4 linked regions of the Homo sapiens genome follow. Changing the gene in region 4 together with the main gene of any one other region gives a genetic interaction. Each region holds a gene or a part of one and is shown on either strand. Other genes may lie near its edges.

What was found.
Region 1: changes in CTBP1 (region 4) and DAZAP1 together harm fitness more than expected from each alone (negative genetic interaction), as found in Homo sapiens cells (one large-scale study listed by BioGRID).
Region 2: changes in CTBP1 (region 4) and UBE2J1 together harm fitness less than expected from each alone (positive genetic interaction), as found in Homo sapiens cells (one large-scale study listed by BioGRID).
Region 3: changes in CTBP1 (region 4) and EZH2 together harm fitness less than expected from each alone (positive genetic interaction), as found in Homo sapiens cells (one large-scale study listed by BioGRID).

The regions. Positions count from the first base shown.
Region 1 is NC_000019.10:1,431,586-1,433,884, forward strand, and holds part of DAZAP1 (DAZ-associated protein 1), read left to right. Parts: intron 1-928; coding exon 929-1,105; intron 1,106-2,153; coding exon of another isoform or gene 2,154-2,242; intron 2,243-2,299. UniProt on the Homo sapiens protein: RNA-binding protein, which may be required during spermatogenesis.
Region 2 is NC_000006.12:89,328,723-89,332,222, reverse strand, and holds part of UBE2J1 (ubiquitin-conjugating enzyme E2 J1), read left to right. Parts: intron 1-2,235; coding exon of another isoform or gene 2,236-2,265; coding exon 2,266-2,544; 3' UTR 2,545-3,500. UniProt on the Homo sapiens protein: Catalyzes the covalent attachment of ubiquitin to other proteins. Functions in the selective degradation of misfolded membrane proteins from the endoplasmic reticulum (ERAD) and is essential for cells to recover from ER stress.
Region 3 is NC_000007.14:148,825,292-148,828,791, forward strand, and holds part of EZH2 (histone-lysine N-methyltransferase EZH2), read right to left. Parts: coding exon 3,449-3,500; intron 1,976-3,448; coding exon 1,873-1,975; intron 1,342-1,872; coding exon 1,163-1,341; intron 1-1,162. UniProt on the Homo sapiens protein: Polycomb group (PcG) protein. Catalytic subunit of the PRC2/EED-EZH2 complex, which methylates 'Lys-9' (H3K9me) and 'Lys-27' (H3K27me) of histone H3, leading to transcriptional repression of the affected target gene.
Region 4 is NC_000004.12:1,224,811-1,228,981, forward strand, and holds part of CTBP1 (C-terminal-binding protein 1), read right to left. Parts: intron 3,534-4,171; coding exon 3,389-3,533; intron 757-3,388; coding exon 550-756; intron 1-549. UniProt on the Homo sapiens protein: Corepressor targeting diverse transcription regulators such as GLIS2 or BCL6. Has dehydrogenase activity. Involved in controlling the equilibrium between tubular and stacked structures in the Golgi complex.

The DNA of each region.
Region 1 (2,299 bases), on a different chromosome or scaffold from region 4:
CGCCCGGCTAATTTTGTATTTTTAGTAGAGAACAGGTTTCACTATGTTGGTCAGGCTGGTCTTGAACTCCTGACCTCAGCGCATCCAGAATTTTAGACGGGGCCCCCAGGGTGAGGTCTTGGCACCCTCCAGTAGAGAAGAAGGGACATGGGCCATACGTGGGGTGTCCTTTCTGGGAGCCTTGCGTCCCTTACCTGCCTAGCCAGGGATTGCACCTCACAGCACGCAGCCAGCAGGAACGGCACCGTGATCTGATTTCACCTGCGGGCCCTGGGCCCTGGGGGTGTTTGACAATTGGGGCATATCACAGTGTGAGCTAGTCCCGTCTCGGGGGTTTGGAGGCTCCACGTGGCCGTGGTACAGGAGCAGGCAGTTCCATCCTCTGGCCTGGATCAGGCTCTGCACACGGAGGCCTGTGGGCCAGATGACTGACAGGAGGGGAGTTGGGTGGAACCTCGGCCTGCCTGATATCCAGCAACAGAGGGCAAGGGCGGCAGCACCTCCAGCATGACAGTCCCTTCCAAGCACGTCAGGATGCTCCCTTGCCTGTGCTGGCAGCTTCCTAAACATGGGGACTGGGCATGGTGGCAGGTTTTTGTCCTTCTGAAAGAGCAATTTTGCTGTGAGGTTACTTGCTCCTTGAGTTCTTGTCTGAGGCCCACCTGGCGGCTGCTCCGTGAGGAACGAGGTGGCCCTGCTGCAGCTCAGCATCCCGCCACGCTCCCAGGAGTGTGTGTTTCCTGGGGGGAGCGGCCCGGGACCGTGGCTCTGTGGTCCATTCTGTGGATGTCCACAAGGCCTGGGCGTTCTGTGGGTTTGGGTGGCAGTCCCGTCTGGGCAGCTCCTGCTGGGCTGGGTGTGGGTCTCCTGCTGGTCTGCCCCCAGCTGCACAACGTGTCTTGTGCCTTGCCCTCTTGTACCTCTGCAGGTTTTGGCTACGGGCCTCCACCTCCACCGCCAGATCAGTTTGCCCCTCCGGGGGTTCCTCCTCCACCAGCCACTCCCGGGGCAGCACCTCTGGCTTTCCCACCGCCTCCGTCTCAGGCTGCCCCGGACATGAGCAAGCCCCCGACAGCTCAGCCAGACTTCCCCTATGGTCAGTATGGTAAGTGGTCTCCTGCCATGCCGCGTCCCCGCTGGCCCCAGGACCCTGGGCACGGCCTGCCTTCTTCTGCTTCCTCCCCTGCTGGACGCTCCCCAGCCTTTACCTGGTGGGAAAGGGGAGAGGGAGGAGAGGGGGGTGTGGGGGTTGTTGGAGAGATCTCGTGGCAACTCGGGTCCAGCAGAAGGGAGCGTGGGAGTCTTGTCGCAGCAGAGCACTCGTCATACAGCAGGTGCTGCAGGGCCTGCATGTGTGGGAACCTGAGTGGCGACTGGGTCGAGGGAAGTGAGTCGCAGGCAGCTGTGATCACTGTCTAGAGGTTCAGGCCCTCGGTGTGGGTCCCGGGTGCACTGGCCCCTTGGTGGGTTCCAGTTTCTGGCGTCATCAGCCTCCTGCTGGGTCCAGACCCCGCTTGGGGCAGAAGCTGGGTCTGTAGTAGGCGTGGCCTGGACGTGGGCTTCACCCTGGACTGGATGGCTGTCGTGGCTTGGGTCTGCCTGGACGTGATCTGCAGGCAGCGCATGTGCTTCCGGGGCAGGAGCTTGTGGGGGGGCGGGGTCAGCATGGGTCAAGGTCTGCATGTCAGTAGTTCTCGCCCTGCACTGAGCCAGGAGTCACAGCAGCCTTGCTCAGGACCAACGCGGTGGCCTCAGTGGGCAGGGCTCCAACTACGGTCAGCTCCTCCAGCACCAGGGGTCATTCACAAGCAGGGTTTGAGAACATGGGGCACCTGTCTGCAGGTGGCCACGGGCTTCCGGGGTGCCTGTGAACACGCTTCCTCTAGGCCTGGTGGAGGCCGGGGTGTGGGAGCTGTGTTCGGCCGAGGTGCCCGCCCACCCACCTCGCATGGCTGTGGTTCCCCTGCCCCCACGCCCAGGCCTTGGGCCGAGGTTGCCGCATGTGTGGGTTCTTGACCCACTCACCACCAAACCCTGGCGTGTCTGAGACTGGCAGGGGGGTGTGAGGCGCCCGGTTGGGGCGTGGCGTGTGTCAGCCGCTGCTCTTGGTGGCGGCTGCTTGGGTTGGTCACCCTGGTCTCGTCTCTTGCCAGGCCTGGGTTCCTATTCTCCAGCCCCGCCGGGCTGCGGCCCACACTTTGTTTACAGTCTTATGGTCAGGCTGAGCAGTGATGTGGCCTAGGTAGGTGCCGCCTCCTTCTCCAGGGTCCTCCCACCCGCCTGCACCGGGAGGTGGACG
Region 2 (3,500 bases), on a different chromosome or scaffold from region 4:
ACATTTTTTTTGTTGTTGTTTCTCCAGTTTATTGAAGACTTTAAAGGGTGAGGGAAAATTGAAATAGAAGTTGGGCAAATATAGATTTGCCCTTTACCCAGCAATAACGTACGTAAAGTGGGAGTGAATAGTCTTGAGTGAGTCTCTCCTATTCAGAGAGTGAGCTGGGCAGAGAAAAGTTGGTTGAAGAAGAACAGGGTGGTAGTCTAGGGGGACTGAAGATGGAGGTCCAAGAAAAAAGTGTGTAGCGATGAGTTTAAATCATTTTTGTGTGATCCCAATGTAATTTTATGAATTGCAGGGGAAAACAATGAATTAATTTTAAGGTCAATATGTTTTAGTTCAAGATATTGAAAAAGCTTTCTAATTACTTTTTATTTCATAGTTTTTTTTCTAATAGAAGCATTCTATTACAAAAAGGAAGGTGGTAATCTTTTTTCACCTTTTAGGACAGCCTCCTAATGTTTGTGATGTATTTAAATCTTTTGTGTATTTTCAATCTATGTTAAGTCCCCTTGTTACATATTCCAGTTATACTTATTCCAGTTGTAATTTACTTTGTAATTATTTATTGTCTATCTCTCTTCCCAGAATGTAAGTTCTGTGAGGGTCAGGGGTCTCTTTCCGCTTCTCCACTGTATCCCCAGTGCCTGGCTTAGTGCCTTCTATATAGTAGATTGCCAATGTTTGTTTGTTGATTGAATGAATGAATCTTAGGATTGGTACTTTAAAAAATGCTAAGAATACAATTAAATAAATCAAGAAGTTTAAGTAAATTAGAGTGTACAAATAATGATGTTATTATAGTAGTATTTCTTGTTTTGATTTAGTACATAAAACTTAGAATTCTTATTCATAGATACAGGTCATTAATTGAGACTATTTTTAGTGAAAATACCAACAAGCAATAAATTGTCTAAAATTGCAAGTTAAGTTTTTAATTATATTTACATATAAACTATCTCAGAGTATGATTATATAATTTGACCACTATGAAAGTAACTGAAACCTGGTTTGGCTAAGGGTGGTTATTTTACATTAAGTATAATATAAATTAATTGAGATGTTATACATCAAATCCCAGATAAGCTATGATTTTTTTGTTGTTGTTAGCCTGAAGGAGAGGCAAGAGATTGCCACAACTCTAAATACCTCAGATAACATCAGGCCATCTGTTGCTTTTTAATGCAGATATTTTAGCATCAAAAAGCAATGGGAAATGTAGAAATGGGAAAAACACTGAAGGCAGTTTTGTTCTTGCAGTCTGTCAGATTTTCTCCTTTTCCCAGGGTAGGGATCGAGGTTCTGAATAAGCCATTTCATTTTATAATAAAAAGCAAAACTCCCTCACACATGCTGGTTATTCTAGAAAAATTTATATATATATCACTAGGGACTTAACTAAGAATGTGATTTTTTATCTTTTTAAGGGAGAGTCTCACTCTGTTGCTCAGGTTGGAGTGCAGGCATGTGATCATAGCTCACCGAAGCCTCAACCTCCTGAGCTCAAGTGATCCTCTTGCCTTAACCTCCCAAGTAGCTAGGACCACAGGTGGGCATGACCACACCTGGCTAAGTTTTAAAATTTTTCTGTAGAGATAGTGTCTCACTATGTTGGCCAGACTGGTCTCAGATGCCTGGGCTCAAGCAGTCCTCCTGCCTCAACCTCCCAAAGTGCTGTATGATTGTTTTAAATAGGAAAAAATTTAGAATTTTATAATATCAAGGCACTTAATTTTTAGTTAGTGATATACCATCCAAAAGGCATCTGAGGCTGGGCACGTTGGTTCATGCCTATAATCCCAGCACTTTGGGAGGCCAAGGCAGGAGGATCGCTTGATCCCAGGAGTTCAAGACCAGCCTGGGCAATGTAACAAGATCCCATCTCTAAAAAAATAATGATTAAAAAAATAGAGACAAAAGGCATCTGAAACATAGGAACCTAATTAAAACATTATATGTATATACATATTTTCATTAAGCGTATGTGTTAAAATATCATCTAGACCAATGTTTTAAGGGATTGTTTTTCTAAATATATTAATAAAACTATTAAAAGGCCAAAAAGCTGTCCTAACTTATGACTTTTTTTTGAACCTAAATTTAGATGCCCCTCAAGGGATGTATTATTAGTAACAATCATTCTTGGTAGTGTTGCCCTTAGTCATATGTTGTCCTCTGAGATTGTGTATTCTTGAATAGATAACAAGTGTATTTACAAATCTTCTTTGCCAGTTTCAAACAAAGTTTCTTAAAATTTCCTAGTACGGACTCCAGAATTCCTCAGCAGCATCCTTTCATCAACCTACCCAACCTGTAGCTAAGAATACCTCCATGAGCCCTCGACAGCGCCGGGCCCAGCAGCAGAGTCAGAGAAGGTTGTCTACTTCACCAGATGTAATCCAGGGCCACCAGCCAAGAGACAACCACACTGATCATGGTGGGTCAGCTGTACTGATTGTCATCCTGACTTTGGCATTGGCAGCTCTTATATTCCGACGAATATATCTGGCAAACGAATACATATTTGACTTTGAGTTATAATATGGTTTTGTGACTTATGAGCTGTGACTCAACTGCTTCATTAAACATTCTGCATTGGGTATAATCTAAGAATTGTTTACAAAAAGATTATTTTGTATTTACCCTTCATTCCTTTTTTTGATCCTTGTAAGTTTAGTATAAATATATCTAGACATTCAGACTGTGTCTAGCAGTTACGTCCTGCTTAAAGGGACTAGAAGTCAAAGTTCCTTGTCTCACTATTTGATCTGCTTTGCAGGGAAATAACTTGTTTTTTCTCATGTTTCATCTTCTTTTTATGTAAATTTGTAATACTTTCCTATATTGCCCTTTGAAATTTTTGGATAAAAGATGATGTTTTAAGTTCCAATGAGTATTACTAGTTACTCAATACCACTTATTGAGTACTCTGTTTCTACGTATGTAGAATGTATAGGGATAGAAGAGTTGAAAAGGGAAAGCAAAACTCCTCAAGTAGCTTCCTTAAAATGTCATTCATAGGAGATGTACTGGAATTGCTCATTCTGTGACTTTATTTGTGTCCTAAACATTCTTCAGTGAAAATAATTTTATTTCAGTCAAACATTTATGAGGAAATGAGATCACATCTTTGTCACTGGATGCTACTTGAAGAGGGAGTACTTTGTAACCACTTTGATATGCTGTTATCACCACCCCCTGCCCTCTGCTGCCATAATCACACAAATTTAAAAAGAAAGAAAACAGTCTTCCATAGATTTTTAAGGAAGAAAGGGCCCAAGCCAGGAGATCGCTTGGTTTTCTTCCAGAAGTTAAATGGGGGGATCTGAAGATTTGAATGTTTGGTCTGCTTTGAAATGTATGTCTTTTGGGATGTATTATATGCCTAGCTTTATAATCAGTATAAATTTTAATTATTCCAGGAATATGCATAATATTGAAATATTTCATGTCCTATTTTAATAGAAAACCTCAGGGCCCAAGTAACAGTGATAGAA
Region 3 (3,500 bases), on a different chromosome or scaffold from region 4:
ACAAATGGATGACTTACTACGAATTTTTAAAACTACCAAATCAATTTAAACTAGATGAGGAGTTAGAACAAGAGCAAGGAGGTAACAATATAATGATAATTCTAAAAATCTACTTCAAGTTTTTCTATTTTAAGATAACTAAACCACTAATATGTCACACACAAAAACAAAACTTAACATTTCCAGACCAATGTATTACATCACTCAACACATTATTAGCTGCAGCAAAAACAAGTAGAGCAAACACTTAGGAGGAGGTGAGGTACAGCTGCTTGGGCAAGCTTAAAAAGACGTTATCATTGGTGAACGAGGAGGAATAAATCTGTCAATGGTAGGCACAGGAACTCAAAACAACAAAGCAATGTGGGGCCGTTGAGTACAGGGGAAAACGATTTTACAATGGGTCAAAGCCCCTAAAGAAATTACCATGCCATAGACAGACGTACTAAAATACAATATAGGAAAAACCAAACTATAATAAGCAAACTACTCTAGGAAAATTAGGAAGTATTAAATACATTTTCAAAATATGTGCCTCAAAAGTAGTTGACGCTTTTAAACTGTGCTTAGAAGTTTCAATTACCAGGAAAATTTACTAAGAAACCACATTCCCTAGAAATGCCAGAGGAAAAAAGTATTTTTGTATATACCATACTTACATTTTCACTAAGAACATTTTACGTTTTACTTGTATTCAAATGCAGGTATTTTTAAAAAACAACTTACCCAGAGGGCAAAAAAATAAAATAAAATAAAATAAAATTACATTAAATCGACAAGCACTTACCTGAACATTTTTTTGGCCAATTTCTTATTTAACACAATTTATTCATCAATATCAGCAATGTTGCTCTGGGCTACCAGTTCATAATAATAGTTTTATTGTAAAACAACTGCTTAGTTAGCACTTACGGGGGAAAAAAAAAAAAATCACTGACCTGAATTCCATGTTAGTGGAAAATAGTAGTCCAAATGAAATACATGCAAAAGATTTCAGAGCAATCCTCAAGCAACAAAGTAAAAATAATAATACTGAGATCTAAAGATATTTGTCAAAGTAACTACAAGATTAAATGATAAATTCTAGTTGTAATAAATGATAGCACTCTCCAAGCTGCTTTAAAACATAATTCCACAACAAAGATAGAAAATGAAAACGTACAATAATTGCACTTACGATGTAGGAAGCAGTCATATTTAAAACATCGCCTACAGAAAAGCGTATGAAAGGAGTGTAAGCTTTGCTCTCTCTGAACAGATTTAGCATTTGGTCCATCTATGTTGGGGGTACATTCAGGAGGAAGTGCGCCTGGGAGCTGCTGTTCGGTGAGTTCTTTATATCTGACATTAACCAAGAAAAATTTAAGTAAACATGAAACAAAAATCACTTTTTTGAAAACAGTTTCTAAAAGGTTTCCATGTGTTACTTTTGATGTTTATCTTGCCTAAAACATAAAGGAATGGCTCTATTTAGATAAAGAGCCAACTAAATATTGTGCATGGTGTTATCAAGAATCAAATTCATCGATATGATTCAAATATATCATGGAAAAGGATATTATATTAGTTTTAACTAAACATCAAATTTCTACCAGTATCCAGATAATTTTCCTGTAAATGTACTACTGTAAATTTTATGTATATGTGTGTGTTTATGTGTATATATAAATTATACATATGTATTTATTCTATCTACAGGAAATATTTTGTAATGCAGAGTACCACAAGTACACATGTTGCTTCAAGTATCTTGCAAACACTGTAAACAAAGTGTAGTGGCTCATCCGCTACATTGATTCCATTTGTAATAAACCAAAATGGTGAGTTACATACCATACAGGGCAAGATTGCCTCAAAGGAACAAATTCTTACTTTTCCTTTAGTTCTTCTGCTGTGCCCTTATCTGGAAACATTGAGGAAATGGCTTCAAAAATTTTATCAGAAGGAAATTTCCGAGGTGGGCGGCTTTCTTTATCTAAACAGGAGAATATGAAAGGAAAAAAAGAATGGAAGTAAACAAGTTTTTGATCTTTCATTTTCTCTACCCAATTATGTCTCTATAACAAAGCTGATTTTCTAAGAAATCATCTCTATTTTGTGTTTTACTTACTTCTCACATACTTTACATGTCTGTGGAATGCCAGTCAGTCAAAAACAAAATTCAAATTCAAATATGAAAAGCTTTAAGAGCACTGGGAAGCAGAAAACCTAGGTTCTACTCCCAGCTCTGCTACTAACTGATTTTGTGACTTAGAGTGATCACTTTACCTCTTGGGTCTGTTTACTCATCTGTAAAATGAAGGAGCTGAACTAGATGATCAATAAGGTCAATAAGGTACCTTTTTGTTATTTTCTCTTTTTTGAAATACGCTTCTTAGAAATTGCTATTTCACCCGCCAAATTATTCTATTCTATGCTGCCTTAGCATGAGCTTTGCCAAGTAGAGAACACCAACTATTGACTCTGTTTCTTCCCAATAGTGTAATCTTATAAGTTACTTAACCTCTCTAAATCTATCCCCTCAAATAGAAAATGGATCTGACAGGTGGGGCGCAGTGGCTCACGCCTGTAATCCTAGCACTTTGGGAGGCCGAGGCAGGTGGATCACGAGGTCAGGAGATAGAGACCATCCTGGCTAACACGGTGAAACCCCGTCTCTACTAAAAAATACAAAAAATTAGCTGGGTGTGGTGGCAGGTGCCTATAGTCCCAGCTACTCGGGAGGCTGAGGCAGGAGAATGGCGTGAACCCAGGAGGCGAAGCTTGCAGTAAGCTGAGATGGGGCCACTGTACTCTAGCCTGGGCGACAGAGCGAGACTCCGTCTCGAAAAAGAAAATGGATCTGATAATAACATCCATCTCATGAAGCCATTATGAGGATTAAGTGAGCTGGTGCATAAGAAGTGATTAGTACACAACTTGTACACGGTGAATATCAATGTTATATATTATAATGATGCCCAGTGAAGCACACAAAAAATTACGTTCTTTGCTAGCCAAAGGAAACAAAGATACTCAAGTGAAGATAATGTTGCAAGTATTATGCTTTTTTTTTTCTTTTTTAAGGCAAGGTCTCACTCTGTCACCCAGCCAGACTGTGCAGTGGCACAATCACAGCTCAATGCAGCCTACACCTCCTGGGCTCAAGCAATCACCCTGTCTCATTTTTTTACTTTTTAGTAGAGATGGGGTCTCACTATGTTGCCCAGGTTGGTCTTGAACTCCTGGGCTCAAGCAATCTGCCCACCTTAGCCTCCCAAGTGCTAGGATTACAGAGTTAGCCACCCTACCTGGCCATAATATGTTAATTTTGATTATACTGCTATCAATGTGATATTTAACAAAGAAAGAAAAAGAGAAAGAAGAAACTAAGCCCTATTTCTACTCTTTCTACTGTTTTTGAAAGAAAGCTGTAATGGCTACACAGAATCCTAATAATCAGGCATACCATCTCGGTGATCCTCCAGATCTTTCTGCTTTTCTTCTCTTTCTTCAGGATC
Region 4 (4,171 bases):
GCCCGTGAGGTCATGTATACTGTGATGTCTGTGAGGCCCACATGTGTGCTGTGGCATCTATGACATCCGTGCAGGCCAGTATGTGTACTGTGACATCGGTGTGTGATGTCTGTGTGTGCCATGATGTCTGTGTGAGGCCCACATGTGTGCTCTGATTTCTGTGTGAGGCTGTGTACTGTGACATCCGTGTGTTATCTATGTGCCCATGAAGCCCATGTGAGTGCTGTGACGTCCGTGTGTGTTATCTGCATGTGCCCATGAGACCCACGTGCTGTGATGTCTGTGTGAGGCTGTGTGTGCTGTGGCATCCGTGTACGTTATCTGTGTGTGCCTGTGTGAGACCCACGTGTGCTGTGACGTCCGTGCACGTAGGGCACACGCCTGGGACTCCCGGGCCCTGGTGCCTGTGCGCACTCAGTCCTGTCCTGGGTTGGGACCGACACCTGCAGCAGCCCCACCCCGCCCCGGGCCTCTCCTCCTGGGCACAGCTGAAGAGCGGCAGCGCCAGACACAGGGAGGGACACAGGCGTGGAGCTGCGGCCGACGCACCAAGTCCGATGATGCCCAAGGTCTCCCCGCGGATCCTGGCAGCGCCGGACGCCACCTCGCGGATCTGCTCGACGCTCTGGACTCGTGTGCCCTCCCGCAGCGCCTGGTGCAGCCAGGTGGCCCGCCGGTACAGGTTCAGGATGTGGCACAGCGTCGAGTCGGCCGTCTCCTCCACAGACGCCGCGGGCACGTTGCAGACGGCAATGCCTGTGGGGACAAGGACACGGCGGTCACCCCCGGGCCGGGCCCAGCCTCCGGGAGGACACCGGGGCCGCCGTGACTGGAGCGGGTTTGAAGCTTCCCAAGGAAGAAGCCAAAGGCCGTGTCCCCAAGGCCACCCCGGGAGGCCACGAGATGAACACGTTGCTCACAGGTCGGGCGCAACAGAGCAACTCCAGGAGCCCCACCTCCACTTTAGGTTCACGTGGCAGCACACACACGGCAACTGCTCGGTGTGTGGTAGGGCTGGGGTGTGAGACGCTGCCCTGACCCCTCCCGACTCAGCGCTGGCAGCCCAGGAAGAGACAAGCACGTGTCTCCCCGCGTCACCTCGCCACCCCGATTCCTCTCGGGGGTACCCTGCTGGGAGGCTGTGGCCAGGTCAGAATCTGGGTGCCGGCCCCGCCTGCACACCCCTACGTGGACATCCGCACATGTCCTCAGGCCTCCCCCAGGCCCAGCCGGGCCCCGAAGCCCCTTCCGCCCTCCATGCCCCACCCCTGCAGTCGGTAACACTGAAGCTGGAGCCATTCCTGGAAAGCAAGTCCATCCCATTTCTCCCGAGTGGCCAGGCACGCCCATGTGTGACCCCTACTCCCCGCTCCCGGCCTTGTCCCCAGAGACAGGCCCTTCCCCAGCCAGTGCCCCTCCCTGAGCCTATTTACCCTCATCCCTGGCTTGTCCCTGGCCAGGGCCGCCCCTGCACGGCACTTCCCACCCCATCCGGATGATTGCATTCCTGTGTCCGACTGGCCATCCGTCTCCCTGGGGAGGAGGAGGGGGCAGGAGGCCAGGACAGGGCTGCATTCATAGGCCCGGAAGCTGGACAGGACCGTGTGGTTCCGCAAGGGGTCCCGGGGGCCGGGAGAGGGCCTGATGTGGGGCGGCGCAGGCAGGGGCTGCATAGCCCCTAGACACAACTCACTTGGACGTAAAAATGTTAAACAAGGGAGACTGAGGGAGAGCCAAGCCAGGCGCCACACGAGATTGGAACAAAGACCTCCTGAGGGTGGGCCAGATCCCAGGGGTGCCCCAGACCATCCCTGGCTGAAGAACAGAGCCCAGGCCTGGGAAACTCCACGGGTAACAGAGATGGTAAACAGCAGGGACCCCTCAAAAAGCACCAGGCATGCACCCGACACCACACACCCAGGCCTGCACCCGACACCGCAGCCGGCCCTTCCTGGGACGCCACCACAGAGACAAAGGCGGGAGGAGGCTGGCACACAGGTTTGGCCCATGGGCGCCGGCGGAAGCAGCTGAAGCCAGTGCAGGAGACCCCCAGATGGAGGCATGGCTTCCGACACCACCTGCGTCCCCCGCAGGAACACAGACGGTTCCAACTTTGCAATGCCATAAACTGTATCCTAGGAAAAGGGAAGCAAAACCGTGAGGCGCTGGCCAACTGTGGGCAAGGGCAGGGTACAACCTCGCCTGTTACCAGCATCGAGAGGAGGAGAAAAAACAGACCGAGCCTGGCAGAAAACAGAAAGTGCGCTCCAAGCAGGACGGCCAAGCACCGCCCCAAGTTTGTTCTAATGAGTGTCTGTACATGGATGCAGACACATGTGCATGTTCCATGTGCGTGTAGGTGCACGGGTGCAGACGTGCGTGTTCCATGAGTGTTCCATATGCTGAGTGCACAAGCAGAGGTGCATGTGTTCTGTGTGATGAGCATGTGATCCATGTGCTGAGTGCGTGTGCACAGGTGCAGATGAGTGTGCGTGATCCGTGTGCTGAGTGCATGTGCACGGGTGCAGATGAGTGTGTGTGTTCCATGTGCTGAGTGCACATGCACGGCTGCAGATGTGCGTGTTCTGTGTGTGTTCTGTGTGCTGAGTGTGCGTGATCCGTGTGCTGAGTGCGTGTGCACGGGTGCAGATGAGTGTGCAGGATCCGTGTGCTGAGTGCATGTGCACGGGTGCAGATGAGTGTGCGTGTTCCATGTGCTGAGTGCACATGCATGGCTGCAGATGTGCGTGTTCTGTGTGCTGAGTGTGCGTGATCCGTGTGCTGAGTGCATGTGCACGGGTGCAGATGAGTGTGCAAGATCCGTGTGCTAACTGCATGTGCATGGGTGCAGATGAGTGTGCGTGTTCCATGTGCTGAGTGCACATGCACGGATGCAGATGTGCGTGTTCCGTGTGTGTTCTGTGTGCTGAGTGTGCGTGATCCATGTGCTGAGTGCACAGGTGCAGACGTGTGTGTTCTGTGTGCTGAGTGCACACGTACTGGGTTGCAACACGCTGCTGTTCCCGCTGTGTCTCGGGACAGAGACCTATGAGCCCTATTACAGCCATACACTGACGGCCCTGCCCTCACCCCCAGGGTCCCAGTACCCAAGCAAGGGGCACCAGCCAGACATGCATGCAGACCTGTGTGAAGCCACAGCTGGATTTCCTGCTGCCCAAAAGAGAGGAAGTGCCCTGAGATGAGGCTCTGTGAGGAACTGAATGGCTGCAACCTCATGCCGGCCCCAGACGGGACCACGAACCACCGCCAGCCACACCAGGCAATGTGCAACGGGGTCCTCAGTGTGGCAGTGAAGCCTCCATGGACGAAGCAAGACGGGACGGAGCTTGCATGAATGGGCACAGGAGAGAACTCGGAGCCGGCCTACCTAAATCCCCGGCCGACTTGATGTCGATGTTGTCAAAACCACTGCCAATCCGGACGATGATGCGGAGGGCTTTGAACTTCTCCAGGTCCTCCCTGGTGAGAGTGATGGTGTGGTACATCAGGGCCCCCACAGCCTCGTTCAGGACCTGCAGCGAGAAAGCACACAGGCTCAGCCCGGAACCTGAAGACCCTCGGGCTTGGCCTTCGGGGGTGGGGCTGCCCCGGCTGGGAAATTAGCCTGTGGCCCTCAGGCTTGTTCCCCAAGCACCAGCCCGGACACTGGGAGAGGCTACATGAAGGCTTCCCCGCCACGCGCGGCCCCTCAACCTCTGCCCAGGCGTCCTGAGTCCCAGCAATTCCCACCGCAGCCTCCTCAGCCGCATGTAGGCTGCAGGCCGGCACTGGTCAGAGTTGCCCGCTCCCCACTGTGGTGGCTGAGATGTCTCCTTTTGAGCGTGCGCCCCACCGAGACTCTGCTCAGCCTTGTGGAAGAAACGGGGTCCCGCCTGGCGAGGACACAGGAGGGGGGGTGCGGCCACACCCAGGAAGGACACTGAGCAGGTGCAGCTGGGTGGGGTGGCCAGGGAACCTGAGACCTGCAGGCCCGGGGATGCAGGTAGAAAGTGGTAAGTCCCCGCGGCACACAAGCACGTCGGCGGAGGCAGGCAGACGCCACCCAGCCGTAAGGATACATCCACAGGAGCATGCACTGCCCCCGTGTCGCCCAAGAACCTGCCCAGAAATGCTGCCCCTGGCTGGCGAGGCTTGGGTCTGAGCAGTGTTC